3 separate regions of the Homo sapiens genome follow, and regions 1 and 3 are each reported to be linked to region 2. The links are microRNA targets in miRTarBase. Many come from high-throughput screens and were not tested one by one. Region 2 holds a microRNA gene; each other region holds the end of a gene's coding sequence.

What was found. Region 2 holds the annotated microRNA hsa-miR-4292 (CCCCUGGGCCGGCCUUGG, at 1,886-1,903, shown strand). A microRNA usually pairs through its seed, bases 2 to 8, with sites in the 3' UTR of a target mRNA and lowers its output. Matches are read on the target gene's strand: a 7mer-m8 pairs with bases 2 to 8, a 7mer-A1 pairs with bases 2 to 7 and ends in A, and an 8mer does both.
Region 1: miRTarBase lists ZNF445 as a target of hsa-miR-4292. Seed matches in the 3' UTR shown: 7mer-A1 at 1,571-1,577, 7mer-A1 at 1,699-1,705 and 7mer-m8 at 3,073-3,079.
Region 3: miRTarBase lists RIMKLA as a target of hsa-miR-4292. Seed matches in the 3' UTR shown: 7mer-A1 at 689-695.

The regions. Positions count from the first base shown.
Region 1 is chr3:44,443,002-44,447,194 of GRCh38, reverse strand. It overlaps ZNF445 (zinc finger protein 445), which reads left to right. Exons shown (of 8, transcript NM_181489.6): 8 at 1-4,193. The coding sequence ends at 620. Among named protein-coding and RNA genes, the nearest start is that of LINC01988, 17 kb to the right of the region's middle.
Region 2 is chr9:136,829,111-136,833,303 of GRCh38, forward strand. It overlaps MIR4292 (microRNA 4292), which reads left to right and starts at 1,847; the gene lies at 1,847-1,913. It overlaps RABL6 (RAB, member RAS oncogene family like 6), which reads left to right. Exons shown (of 15, transcript NM_024718.5): 5 at 283-374; 6 at 2,611-2,751; 7 at 3,155-3,260.
Region 3 is chr1:42,414,540-42,418,732 of GRCh38, reverse strand. It overlaps RIMKLA (ribosomal modification protein rimK like family member A), which reads right to left. Exons shown (of 5, transcript NM_173642.4): 5 at 1-4,193. The coding sequence ends at 3,759. Among named protein-coding and RNA genes, the nearest start is that of RIMKLA, 36 kb to the right of the region's middle.

The DNA.
Region 1 (4,193 bases), not on the chromosome of region 2:
CTCCAAATGTGGAGCCAAAAATCCTCACTGGTGAGAAACGTTTTTGGTGTCAAGAATGTGGGAAAACCTTTACACGTAAAAGAACCCTTTTAGATCATAAGGGAATACACAGTGGAGAGAAGCGCTATAAATGTAATCTATGTGGGAAATCTTATGATAGAAACTATCGCCTTGTTAACCATCAGAGGATCCACTCTACAGAGAGACCTTTCAAATGTCAGTGGTGTGGGAAAGAGTTCATTGGGAGACATACCCTTTCCAGTCACCAGAGGAAACACACCAGAGCAGCACAGGCTGAACGTAGCCCGCCTGCACGGTCTTCCTCTCAGGACACAAAGTTGAGATTACAGAAGCTAAAACCAAGTGAAGAGATGCCCCTCGAAGACTGCAAAGAAGCTTGCAGCCAGAGCTCCAGGCTCACTGGACTCCAGGACATAAGCATTGGGAAAAAGTGCCACAAATGCAGCATATGTGGGAAAACTTTTAACAAGAGTTCACAACTCATTAGCCACAAGAGATTTCATACTCGAGAGAGGCCCTTCAAATGCAGCAAGTGTGGAAAGACCTTCAGGTGGTCTTCGAACCTGGCTCGGCATATGAAAAACCATATTAGAGATTAGCCTGGGACCTGACAGTGACAGTGGGGGTGGGTTCTCAGTCCCCTGCTAGAGAACCCTTAATTATAGGCATTGTGGAGTAACTTTGATAAAGGGCCCAGCCCTTTCTGTTTTGGAAGCTAGTGACAGAATCCCAAGGATTTGAAAGCTCGGGGAGTCCCCAGCCTGCCTGCTAGGATGTGACGCTGGGGAAGTGCAGCACCATGTCCTTTGGAGCCCTTCTGGAGACTCCGGCCCCTAGGAGTGGCCTCTGCACCATAGCCTGCGGCTCCCCTATTCAGGTCTCCTTCCACAACTCTGAAGAGAGAGACCACTGCCCTTTGTGGTTGGACAGAATATCTGTGGCATCATGGGCTATGGCTGCTGGAAAGGGGCCAGTGGGATCCTAGATTTGTCTTCAAGTTTGGCCTGTGGCCATGCCTATTCTGTTGACTTTAAAAGCAGCAGCATCAAGAACTCCTAGCCTTCCCAAATGCCCCCTGGGGAGTTCTGGCTGGGGCTTCAGCCTTCCTGGCTGGCTTTTGGATATCTGCTAGGGGGTTAGAGTGGTCTCAGCGGCAGGTGGAGGAGAGCAGGATGCTGGGCTCAAGCGCTTGGCGTGTGGATCTCTACCAGTACCCTGTTGCCATCCCCATCCCACAGGCCTGCATAGGCAGCAGCGGTCCATCTGTTTAACAGAAATGTGCTGAGCACTCCCATACACCAGGCGCTGGTGTGTTTGCCAGAGACCCAGCAGGGACCAGAACAGATGAAAATCCTGCCATCTTGGATCTTTACAGATGACAAACAAATGGGATACGCAGTATTCTGGATGGTGATGTGTGTAGTGGACAAAGTGAATCAGAGAAGAGCAGAGGGAGTGCTGGATTGGGAGATCAGTCGTGATTTTAGATAGTCTGGTCAGGGAGGGCCTCAACTGAGAAGGTGAAATGTGAGCAAAGACGTGAAGGAAGCCAGGGAGGTAGCAGGTAGCTCTCTAGGGAGAGTTGCAGGCAGAGGAGATTGGGTCTTGACTGGTGTCCTCAGGAAGGAAGCCCCTGGGATGGAGTGCAGGGAGCCAGCTGGAAGGGAAGGAGAGGGGCCAGGGAGGCCACAGGCCCGGCCATATGAGCATCATGGGTCATTACGGGGGCTTGAGCTGGCTCAGAGGGAGGCAGGGAGCTTTTGGACAATTTTGAGTTGAGGAGTGATGTGGTTTGAATCTGAATTATATTTTATAAGGGTTAACCACAGATCCAAGGACTCAGTAAAAGGGTGAAAGGCTTCTCATGCAGTTAGCCTTGCTGCCAGTTCCCATAAATCAGACTCCTCCCCACTCCGTTTCTGAATTTTCTATAGGATCCTCGGCCTCAGCAGATATAAACGCTTACCATTGTTGTGTTCATGTCTCTAGCCCCTGCACACTGCAGGCCCCTCTCAGCTTCACATACCCCTCTCCATGTATGAGATCTGGTGCTAGCAATCAGATTCAACCCGAAGGAACAAGTGCATGTGCCTGCTGCTCTCAGGAGAAAAGGCAGCCTGTTCTGGGAGGAGCTCCCTCACTGGCCCACCCACTTGTGTTGAAGCAAAAAGCAAGAATCAATTACTTAAAGGCAAAGGAGTGATATTGCTAAAGCATGTGAGTAATCATTGCTTCTGATTATTGAAGAGGTCAGATTATGAATGAAAGGATAAAATGTTTTAATAGTAGAGCAGTGTCCTGACTATAGGGGCCCGTTCATGGAGCTGGTCATTTCTTGAAATGAGAAGAAACCAACCTGGAAGATGTCTTTTTCAGTAGAGTATGGAATAATCTTACCTGCTCTGGATTGCCATGAGCAGGTGAAAATGAAGGCTCTGATATTGTGTGGTGGTGTCACAGGATGGTGGGGGCGGGGCAGAAGTCTCCTGTTGGTGTTCTGATGCCTGTTCAGCTTTGTCCTCAGGAAGGTTTGGTCATCTTGGTTCTGCCATCCTCTTGCCTTCCTACGGCAGCAGCTGTTCATGGCACTGAAGATGTCCCTTCACTGTCCCAAAACTGGCACTAGAAGTGGCTGGGCAGGGGGGCCAGAGTCATAGGAAGGGTCTTGGAGTCATCAGATCTGGGTTCCAGGCATGGTGTGCCTTTTCTTGGCAGGATTGATCTTGAGCAAGTCAATGAACCTCTGCATCAATTTCCTTATGTGTGAAGTTAGAGTGCTTGGCTGTGCTACCTGATTCCTGAGATTGGTGAAAGAGGGCTTGGTTTACCAAGGCTCTCCATCAGGTGGTTGACCTCTAGGACCAGGGCCCTCTCAGAGGTGCAGCTTCCATGTCAGTTGGTGTTGTAACCATGGAAAAGTCCCTTTCCAATCAAACTTTTAGCACCCCTTTCCCCCCATCTCTGCTCCCTTTGCCACAGGATACCTTGTAAAGTTCCTGCCCCAGTATAGGGATATTTTTACTGTCTTTTTTATTTTTTGAGACAGGGTTGCCCAGGGTGGAGTGCAGTGGCAGGATCACAGCTTACTGCAGCCTTGACCTCCCAGGCTCAGGTCCCATCTGAGCCTCCCGAGTAGCTGGGGCTACAGGTGTGTGCCACCCTGCCAGCTAATTTTTTATATTTTTTTGTAGAGACAAAACTTTTATTTTTTTTTCCCATGTTGCTCATGCTGGTCTCAAACTCCTGGGCTCAAGCAATCCACCCACCTCTGCCTCCCAAAGTGCTGGGATTACAGGCGTGAGCCACTGTGCCTGACCTGTCATTTTTATAGAATGAAATGTGCTTATTTCTAAACATTCTAATCAAATTTTAAAATGTGCAAAGAATGAAGTGAAAAACTGAATTTTTTTTTTTTTTTGATACGGAGTCTCACTCTGTTACCCAGGCTAGAGTGCAGTGGCGCGATCTCCGCTCACTGCAAGCTCTGCCTCCTGGGCTCACACCATTCTCCTGCCTCAGCCTCCTCAGTAGCTGGGACTACAAGTGCCTGCCACCACGCCTGGGTTATTTTTTATATTTTTAGTAGAGACGGGGTTTCACTGTGTTAGCCAGGATGGTCTCGATCTCCAGGATGGTCTCGATCTCCAGGATGGTCTCGATCTCCTGACGTCGTGATCCACCCGCCTCGGCCTCCCAAAATGCTGGGATTACAGGTGTGAGCCACTGTGCCCGGCCAAAAGAACAGAAATTATTTTATCCTGAAGTAAGCTGTTTATATTTGGGATTATACTGAACCTATTTGTCCAATAACCTGAGTTTTCAAATAATTTTAGTTCTATAAGTACTATAATTATATAAATATTAATGAATTCAGATTAGCTGAAAGGAAAAAAAGTAGAAGCCTGACTACTTGGTGCTAACTACTAAAGATTTTGGCAGAATCAATGTTGGATTTGGCTTTCCTGTCCCTTCCCCATGCCAGCCCCCCAGAGTGTTCTGCCTTGTGCTGCCTCCCTTCACCTGGAGTGCCACACCCCTCTCTCTGCCAGTTCAGCTCTTCATTCTTCAAGGCCTGACCTTGTCTGACCCTTGTGCCTCTAAACCCGTGGCCCCACCTCTCTTGGTTCCTATGTCAGGTGATGTTTGTGTTTTTGGTTATGCCCATCTCCATA
Region 2 (4,193 bases):
GTTTGGTTATCCGTGAGGCCTGGGGCGGACACTGCTGTGATCAGTGGGAGGTCCTGGGTAGGAGGCTTGTTCAGGGAGCCATCAGCGAGGCTGGTGTTGACCGTCAGACCCTTTGGGGCAAACCTATGTTTAGCTATCCCATCTCTTCAGCATATCGTTTCCAAATGGAAATGGCTGTTATCTTTTCAGATTAGAAGACTATCCAGCCTTTTCTAAAACTGTGGGCCACACGGGTGGGGCCCAGCCTGGGCCAGTCTCACACCTGTTCCCTCCTGTCCCCAGGCGGAGTCTGAAATGGCCCTGGATGCTGAGTTCCTGGACGTGTACAAGAACTGCAACGGGGTGGTCATGATGTTCGACATTACCAAGCAGTGGTAAGAGGGAGCTGGCGGGGGCAGCTGCCTGTGACTCTCACCCCCCTAGCCCCTTGGGCGCCCTCTTTGTGCAGCAGATAATGGTTAGAGCAGCATCGTTCTGCAGGACCGAGGGACTCTTGCTGGGCAGCTGTGGCAGCTCAGCCACAAGGGGCACTGGCCTGGATGTCGGGCTGGGCAACGACTATGCCTGTGCCTATGGGGCGGGATGGCGTGGGCCGGCTGCAAAAGGCATCTGGGGCAAGGCACGCACCTTCCATAGCCCCACTGTTCTTCCTGAAAACCCATCTGAGACTTGGCGGAAGCAAGTGGCTGCTTGTGCTGGGGGCTCCCCGCGACCTCCGTCTTCATGACCTAGGAGGACCCACAGCCAAGATTCATTCTAGCAAGAAGATGACAGCGAAATCAGCTAAGGGCAGTGGCACACAGGACGATCTCTGGGGGACCAGGCGCAAGCCCCCAGAGTCCACTGTGGAGTCGCATGGGATCCACTCAGCTCCTCAGGAGTGCAGTGTCCCCCAGGACGCACCGGAGCCCCAGCGGGGGGGTGCTGCGGACGCACACTTGGCACAAGGCTCCTAGAAGAACGAGGGCCGCGTGAAGACCAGTGTCCTGGTGCAGGGCCCCTCCTAGCCACAGCCAGTGCCCGGAGCACCAGGAGCAGCATGCCCGACACGTCCAGGCATCTGCTCTTCCCAGCAGTGGGTCTGGCCTGGGGGCCTAGTCAGCAGCTTCTCTTACTTGGGAAGACCCCCACACCAGGGTTAAGCGTACCGCCTGTCACGGGGCCGCACACTCAGCACGCATCAGCAGCCCAGGCCTGAGGGCGGCTTGAAGCACCTGACCAGCCATGCTCTGGGCCTCTGCCAACCTTTGCCAATGCTGGGAACCATGCCTGCCCTCCCAGCCTTCAGCACCACCACCAAGGACTGACCGCAGGCACCCTCAGGAGAGCCCTCGGTGGGGGTGTGGCACACGGATGGCAGGAGAACCACACACGGGGCTGGCGGCCCCACCCCAGGGCACGAGTTCAGCTCGGGCGCACACGCTGGCCTCACCTGGGCGAGCAGTGGTGCTCCTCTCCCTCCGGCCTCTCCTGTCTAGGCAGCAGGCCAGCCTGGTGGGTGGGAAGTGGCTTTTCCCAAGCGAAGTTGAGTGTGGACACAGTGTGGCCTCCACGGCACCTCCCACTGCTGCCACAGGAACGGCCTGGAGGGAGCTGCAGCCGCCTGGGCTGCCGTGCGAGGAGTGGGCGGGAGTGACAGCGAGACTTGAGCCAGCCTGAGAAGACGCGGCAAAGGCGCTTACCTGTGGGCCCGGAGACCCTGTTGGCAGCACCAGCCTGGGCAGGCGATGCCTATGGTAGCAATGCTCTGTCTGGAGCCCCTGGTGCCCAGCAGGAAGGATGGAAAACACTGGCTCAGACAGCGGCTTCAAGCACCACGCAGGCCCTTCACAGCCACGAGAGGCAGGAGACACCAGAAGGCCACCTGCTTAGGAGGCCAGAGGTGCCCCTGGGCCGGCCTTGGTGAGGGGCCCGTTTAAATGACTGCGTGTAAATGAAAGAAAATGAAGTTAGAAACAGGATGTTGCATTTTTTACTCCCTTATGTTGGCTTTCAGTCGTGGGGAAGTTTTGTCACTTGAAGCGCTGGTTATTTCTTCACAAGCCATTTGGAAAACCACGCAGCTGGGAAACTGGCAGTTCCACGCCAGGCAGACTCTGGAGACTTGCCGTCCGTGCCAGGAGATGTCTGCTTAAGACAAGGCTCTCCAAACAGCCCGCTTCACCGGCAGCCGCAGAGGCACCCCAGGGTGTCCTCGGCTGCCCCGGTGGGCAGGGAGCCTGGAGGACCAGCCACAGGGTCGACACCAAGGGGCACAGAGGACAGTGCGGAATGAGGGTGGACACAGATGAAGCCAGAGGTGGTTTTGTAGGGATGCGGACATGGGGTGCTCTGAGGGAAGGCAGGGACAGGCAGGGGCGTTCCAGTGTGGGGTGCGGTCAAGTACCTGCCGTCAGGGAGAGGGACGGGCGGGGGCTGCAGGCTGAGGGGTGCGAAGGCCCTCGAGGCACTTCCCTCTAGCTCTGCATGCACGAGGCATGCTTCTGCTGGGTTGGATGTTGGAAATGAGAAGCAGCCACCATCCTCGGGCCTGGGCGCACAGCACCTTTCCAGGGAGGGACAGGGCGTCGCAGGGCTGAAACTAAGCCAGGTCCTCACCTGTTCTCCGAGGACCTTCAATTACATTCTCCGGGAGCTTCCAAAAGTGCCCACCCACGTGCCAGTGTGCGTGCTGGGAAACTACCGGGACATGGGCGAGCACCGAGTCATCCTGCCGGACGACGTGCGTGACTTCATCGACAACCTGGACAGGTGGGTGCGGTGGCCCTGCTCCCGAGGGACCCTGCCCGGTGCTCCGGTGTGCGGGGGAGGGTGCTGAGGCAGAGGCCCAGGGAGGGGTTAACGTTAGCATGGGGCCCGGCGGATGTGGGTCTCGCCGCTGAGTGGGGCTCACTGAAGCCTGGGTCTCCCCGATGGCAGGGCCGGGAACTGTGTGCTGGGGAACTGTGTGCCAGGGTGAAGTGCTGGCACTGTGGGGTCACCTGCAGAAGGGCACTCGGCTTAGCTGCTTAGCAGGGCTCAGCAGGGTCCTGTGGCCTCAGGAGCCTGCAGGAGGAGGGAGGGCAGTGCGGACCCACAGCTGTGGGCCCAGGGGTGATCCTTGGCACCAGGGCAAGGGTCTTTCTCTTGCATCTTTTTTCCTTTCTGAAAGCAGACCTCCAGGTTCCTCCTACTTCCGCTATGCTGAGTCTTCCATGAAGAACAGCTTCGGCCTAAAGTACCTTCATAAGTTCTTCAATATCCCATTTTTGCAGCTTCAGGTAAGCACTCACCACGTGGGGTGGAGTGGCTGCTGGTCTCTCACCTCCTTCCAGGTGTCTCCTGTGTAGCAACGGGTCTCCCTCCTAACCCCTGAGAAAGCTGTGGACCTGCTCGGAGATTGGCTGCTGGCAAGGGCCCAGCGTTCTACTGCACCTGCCTGCTCTGGGTGGCAGAGGGTACAGGGTCCTGAGGGCTAGACCCAGTCCCAGGAGCCCCTCCACCTCTGCGGGGACCCCTTGCTCAGTTTCCCCCAGTGTTTTTGGTTGTTTTTGTTTGTTGAGATAAGGTCTTGCTGTGTGGCCCAGGCTGGAGTGCAGTGGCGCAATCATGGCTCACTGCGGCCTCAAACTCCGGGGCTCAGGCAATCCTCCCACCTGTCTCCCAAAGTGCTGGGATGCCAGGCGTGAGTCACCGAGGTACTCGCTGTTCACATCTCACATTTCCCTGGTGCTTGTGTCAAAACCAAGGAACCAACTTTGGCCTACGGACTAAACTCACTTTCCTTTGTAGAAACAAGGGCCAGGCCAGCTGTGGCTGCAAAGTAGCCCAGCAAATGATGAGGCTTGAACCTCCTCGCCCTGGGCTGCCCTGATTGGGTCTGGGGGACCTGAACCTCCTCGCCCTGGGCTGCCCTGACTGGGTCTGGGGGACCTGAACCTCCTCGCCCTGGGCTGCCCCAGCTGGGTCTGGGGACCTGAACCTCCTCGCCCTGGGCTGCCCCGCCTGGGTCTGGGGACCTGAACCTCCTCGCCCTGGGCTGCCCCGCCTGGGTCTGGGGACCTGAACCTCCTCGCCCTGGGCTGCCCCACCTGGGTCTGGGGACCTGAACCTCCTCGCCCTGGGCTGCCCCAGCTGGGTCTGGGGGACCTGAACCTCCTCGCCCTGGGCTGCCCCAGCTGGGTCTGGGGGACCTGAACCTCCTCGCCCTGGGC
Region 3 (4,193 bases), not on the chromosome of region 2:
GTTCTCAAGACCAGCATTCCTCAGGATTTAAAGAAGGGAGGAAGCACATCTCCCCCACTTCTCCAGGGTGGATGGAAATCCATGCATCTCATTATCTTTATGCAGAACAGCTTCAAAGACATCTACCTCTGATCAATACATATTCATGATTCTTTCATTAAAACAGCCCACAGAAGAGCCATTTTTTCCTCCTTCCTACTAGAATTCCAAATCATCCCAATTTTTTATTTCTTTCACAAAACTATTCCAGACCTTTCCCTTTTCCCTTTCCTCCTCTCCTGGTCCCCATGGTCATGGAATCTCCTTTTAGCTGGAAGCAATGGGCCTGAAATTGTGACACTAGTGGCTTATGATCTACTTATATTGTTTCTGAGATCCGAAAGACCTAAAGCCCCAAATCCTCATTCTGGCAACCCCATACCCGATCAGAAAAACAGCATGAAGACATTTTTCCCAAGTGCAGAATCGTATATTCTGAGTGACTGAGCTATTGGCATTCAAGTTTTGACCAGTTTCAAGATGCTACTACCAGATAATGGGAAGACCATATACAGACACTGCAATCTATGTTACATAAGGAAGACTTTGTTAGTTGGTATACAAGAGTGGAGAGTTTCAGGTTATATACGATACATCCAGAAGGCTGTCTGAATACACAAAGAGCCTTATTCCTTTCAGGTCTTAAGTTTCCCTGGCTGGAAGTGAGGCCTCTGAGAAGCTGCATTCCTTTCTCAGGGTACCCTACCACTGTTTGGTGTGCTAATGCCAAGAATGTGTGGCTTTTTTTTTTTTTTTTTGAGACGGAGTCTCGCTCTGTCACCCAGGCTGGAGTGCAGTGGCATAATCTTGGCTCACTGCAGCCTCCACCTCCAAGGTTCAAGCAATTCTCCTGCCTCAGCCTCCCAAGTAGCTGGGACTACAGGCGCCCGCCACCATGCCCGACTAATTTTTTGTTCACTGTGTTAGCCAGAATGGTCTCAATCTCCTGACCTCATGATCCACCCGCCTCGGCCTCCCGAAGTGCTGAGATTACAGGCGTGAACCACCACGCCCGGCCTGGCCTTTTTCTTTAAGGAGTGATGGGAAACTGTTATAAAATCAGATGTGGGAGGTGCTCTACTACCATTAATTTACATGCACCAGTCTCACTTACTTCAGCTTCAAAGAGGTAAACAAAGGAGGCATTTTCTCTATCTGAGTGAAACATGGAGACGCAGAGTTCCTGTGATTGCACGAGGTCAGCTGTTCAAGCGGAGAACCAGAACCAGGCTCTGGCTCTACACCCCATGTTCCTTCAGCAGGCCTGTGGCCAGCTGTGACAAGTATAGCCTGGCCACCTGGCTGAGGCTCACAGAGCCCACAGCCAGCATGGTATGGGAAATCCTGGATTGGGGCTGGTTGTGGTCCAGCTGTGATCCAGCTTTCTCCACTTCTAGACAGGGCTAGTGCCAGGCAATGAAGCCAATGACTACAGATGTCACTCACAGCTGGAAAATGGGCCTCCTTTGGCAAAGGAATCTGGAAGCACTCTCTAGCTGCTCTGCTCAGGCTGGGGCCCTGCTAGCCTCCTTTTAGATAAAGTGGGGAGACTAGATTCACACCAAACAGTGGAAATGAGGGAATGCAGCTTCCAGACGATCATCACTTGGTTAAGTTTGCACAGAAAGTGTAACCAGTTCCAGTGAGAACAAACCTAAAGCTGTCCGTCTTTTAAAGCCACCCTGAGTGGTAAAGATAAGGTACATATCTTAACCTATATAAAGGTGAAGTATTATTTTTCAACTGTACAAGACACATTACTAGGGTTACAGTTCAGTGGCATGCACCTTATGTTGGACTGCATTTAAACTACAACTGTGTAGTGTGACATCTCCATTACATGGCACCAAACATTTGTCAATTGCACAACTATTACTTGGTGAGATCTGGTTTTAACTACAATACTTTAAAAGCCAATTTCTATTTAAATGTGTTATGAAAAAATGCAATAGCTTAACTTTATACACATTTTACATTTATGGCAGAGTAAGTACGGTAATTTCTGCACCCGAATGGGTAGTGTTGCCTTTGAAGTAGTCACCTTGGGAAGATGTATGTTTATTCCAGTGAAGCTGACCTTACACAGAACATTCCTAGAACCCTCTTTAGAAACTGTCAACTTGTAAGGGTCTTCAGTGTTGGTAAATCTTTGTCCTTTAAGGGTAGATCTATTTTTTGAGGAATGATTTTTTTTTTTTAACAGCTAAAGAGCATTAGAAAATAAGTCTGCTAAATAAAATGGGTGAAGCAGCTCAGGATGATCTTGGTGGGCAGGAGGAGGGGTTGGATAAAACACAAGGTCTGACTATAAAGTTGTGAGGCCTCTTGCCTTGCATGGCTTCAAAGGTAATCCCAAAGGGGAACCCTAAGTGTTCTTGGCACATGCAACATCAAGAAAATAACTCCAATTATGCTAACTCTTGAGTGCATATGTTCTAGTGTATTTGGTTAAAAAGGTGGCTTTGTTCATTTTCAGTCATATTTCGTATAAGCAGAAATGGAAAACTCCATCTCTGTGATTTCTCCCAAGGGAAAGATCTCATCTACTGCTTAGAGAATTAAAATGAAAAGCACTTGGTGTCATGTCTACATTAGCCCCCCCCCCCGCAAAATGTGCAATGGGTAATTCCTGATACCTGAGTCTTCCCCGTTTGGAAAAGTGGGTAAGGACAGGTGTCTGGATCTTAGATAAAAGTAGAGTTTCAAGGGGATTGGAGTGTTTCCAATGGCTCCCATCTACTCAATAGACCTCCAACACCCACTCATACAAGAAAACCCCCTACAGCTAAGCAGTACACAAAGTTTCAGTAGAGGAGGGGAAGAATGATGATCTCCAAGTAGCTTTCTATGGTAAAAACCCACTGGCTTCTGGATGACAAGTGAACAGAGTCCATTGAAAAACAAAGTCCATGGTGTTAGATTCTAGTGCACGCTTAAGAAATAAACTGAGTGGCCACTAGCTCATTGAAGTGCATTTCCAGCTGAGGCCAAAGGCAGCAAAGGTGCAAGAAGCTGCTAGAGCTGACGTTAGTTGAAGCAGGGTCTATAAATTCAGAGTGGCAAAGCAATTTGTAGAAAGGCCCAGTTACAAAGCAGGACATTTGCCAACCTGTGAAGTCAAAGAACGTTCAATCTCACTTTCTACAAAGTGCTTCACTGAAAATGCTAATGAGGAAGCTCCCTAAAACACCATATCCTGAGTGTCGGAGAAATATGGTCAAGATGGTGATTGATGGGGAGCAGAGATCGATCCTCTAATAGTGTTTGAACTGTGTCTTTTCCAAGCATCACACACACACTTAGTGAAGAACCTATTACTGCAGTCACATTCCACCTCGTCTGCACATGCTTCCATCCCGTGGTTGCTTTTGAGTACATAATTCCAAGAGCCATTTTGAGCTAATGGGTTCTACTGCTAAAAGTCAGAAGCAACAGCAGAGTCAGTGCCTTAGCGTCAGCCGTAATATCCACGTGCTCACAGCAGACATCAGTCTCATACTGATCAGTCGGGACGTTGTTCTTGAGTGTTTTTATATTTGTCTTTGTAAAAACCACAAAGCTAGGCCATTTGCTTAAATCATCGTTAGAAAAAATGCTGAGTGCCCAGATGGGATTTCTAGTTTCTGTGCAAATGAAATCACATTAGTCCAGATTTTATTCACTCAAAACTACTAGGGAAGCAGTAGGATTTGGTTTAAATGCTGCCAAAAAGCAGGAATTCACTTAAGTTTTAACTCAGAAGCAATCCTGTTGTTAATGTTGTAGCCAGGTTCGGGCAGCATGGAGGGTGGGGCCCCCATTGTGCTTGCTGAGGAATCCCGGATCTCTCCCAGTTCAGGCTCACTTTCACTAGAGGTAGACCCACTGTTGATGGTATAGACGCTCTCTGCAACTCCCTGAGCTGAAGCACAGCCATCCGGCTCGTTCTTCTCCCTTGGACTCGACAGTCCTGGGAGGACAGCCATCTTTCCAGTCTGCCTATTTGGCAGCAAGGACATGGTATAGTCTGCAATGATCCCACCCACATCTAAGTTGCATGCCTGGTCAAAGGCTAGGAAGCCAACATTAGCATTTGCCTCACACACCACAAAGGAGCCATCGTCCATGATAAGGAGATCAATGCCACAGAAGTCCATGCCTAGGATGTTGGACAC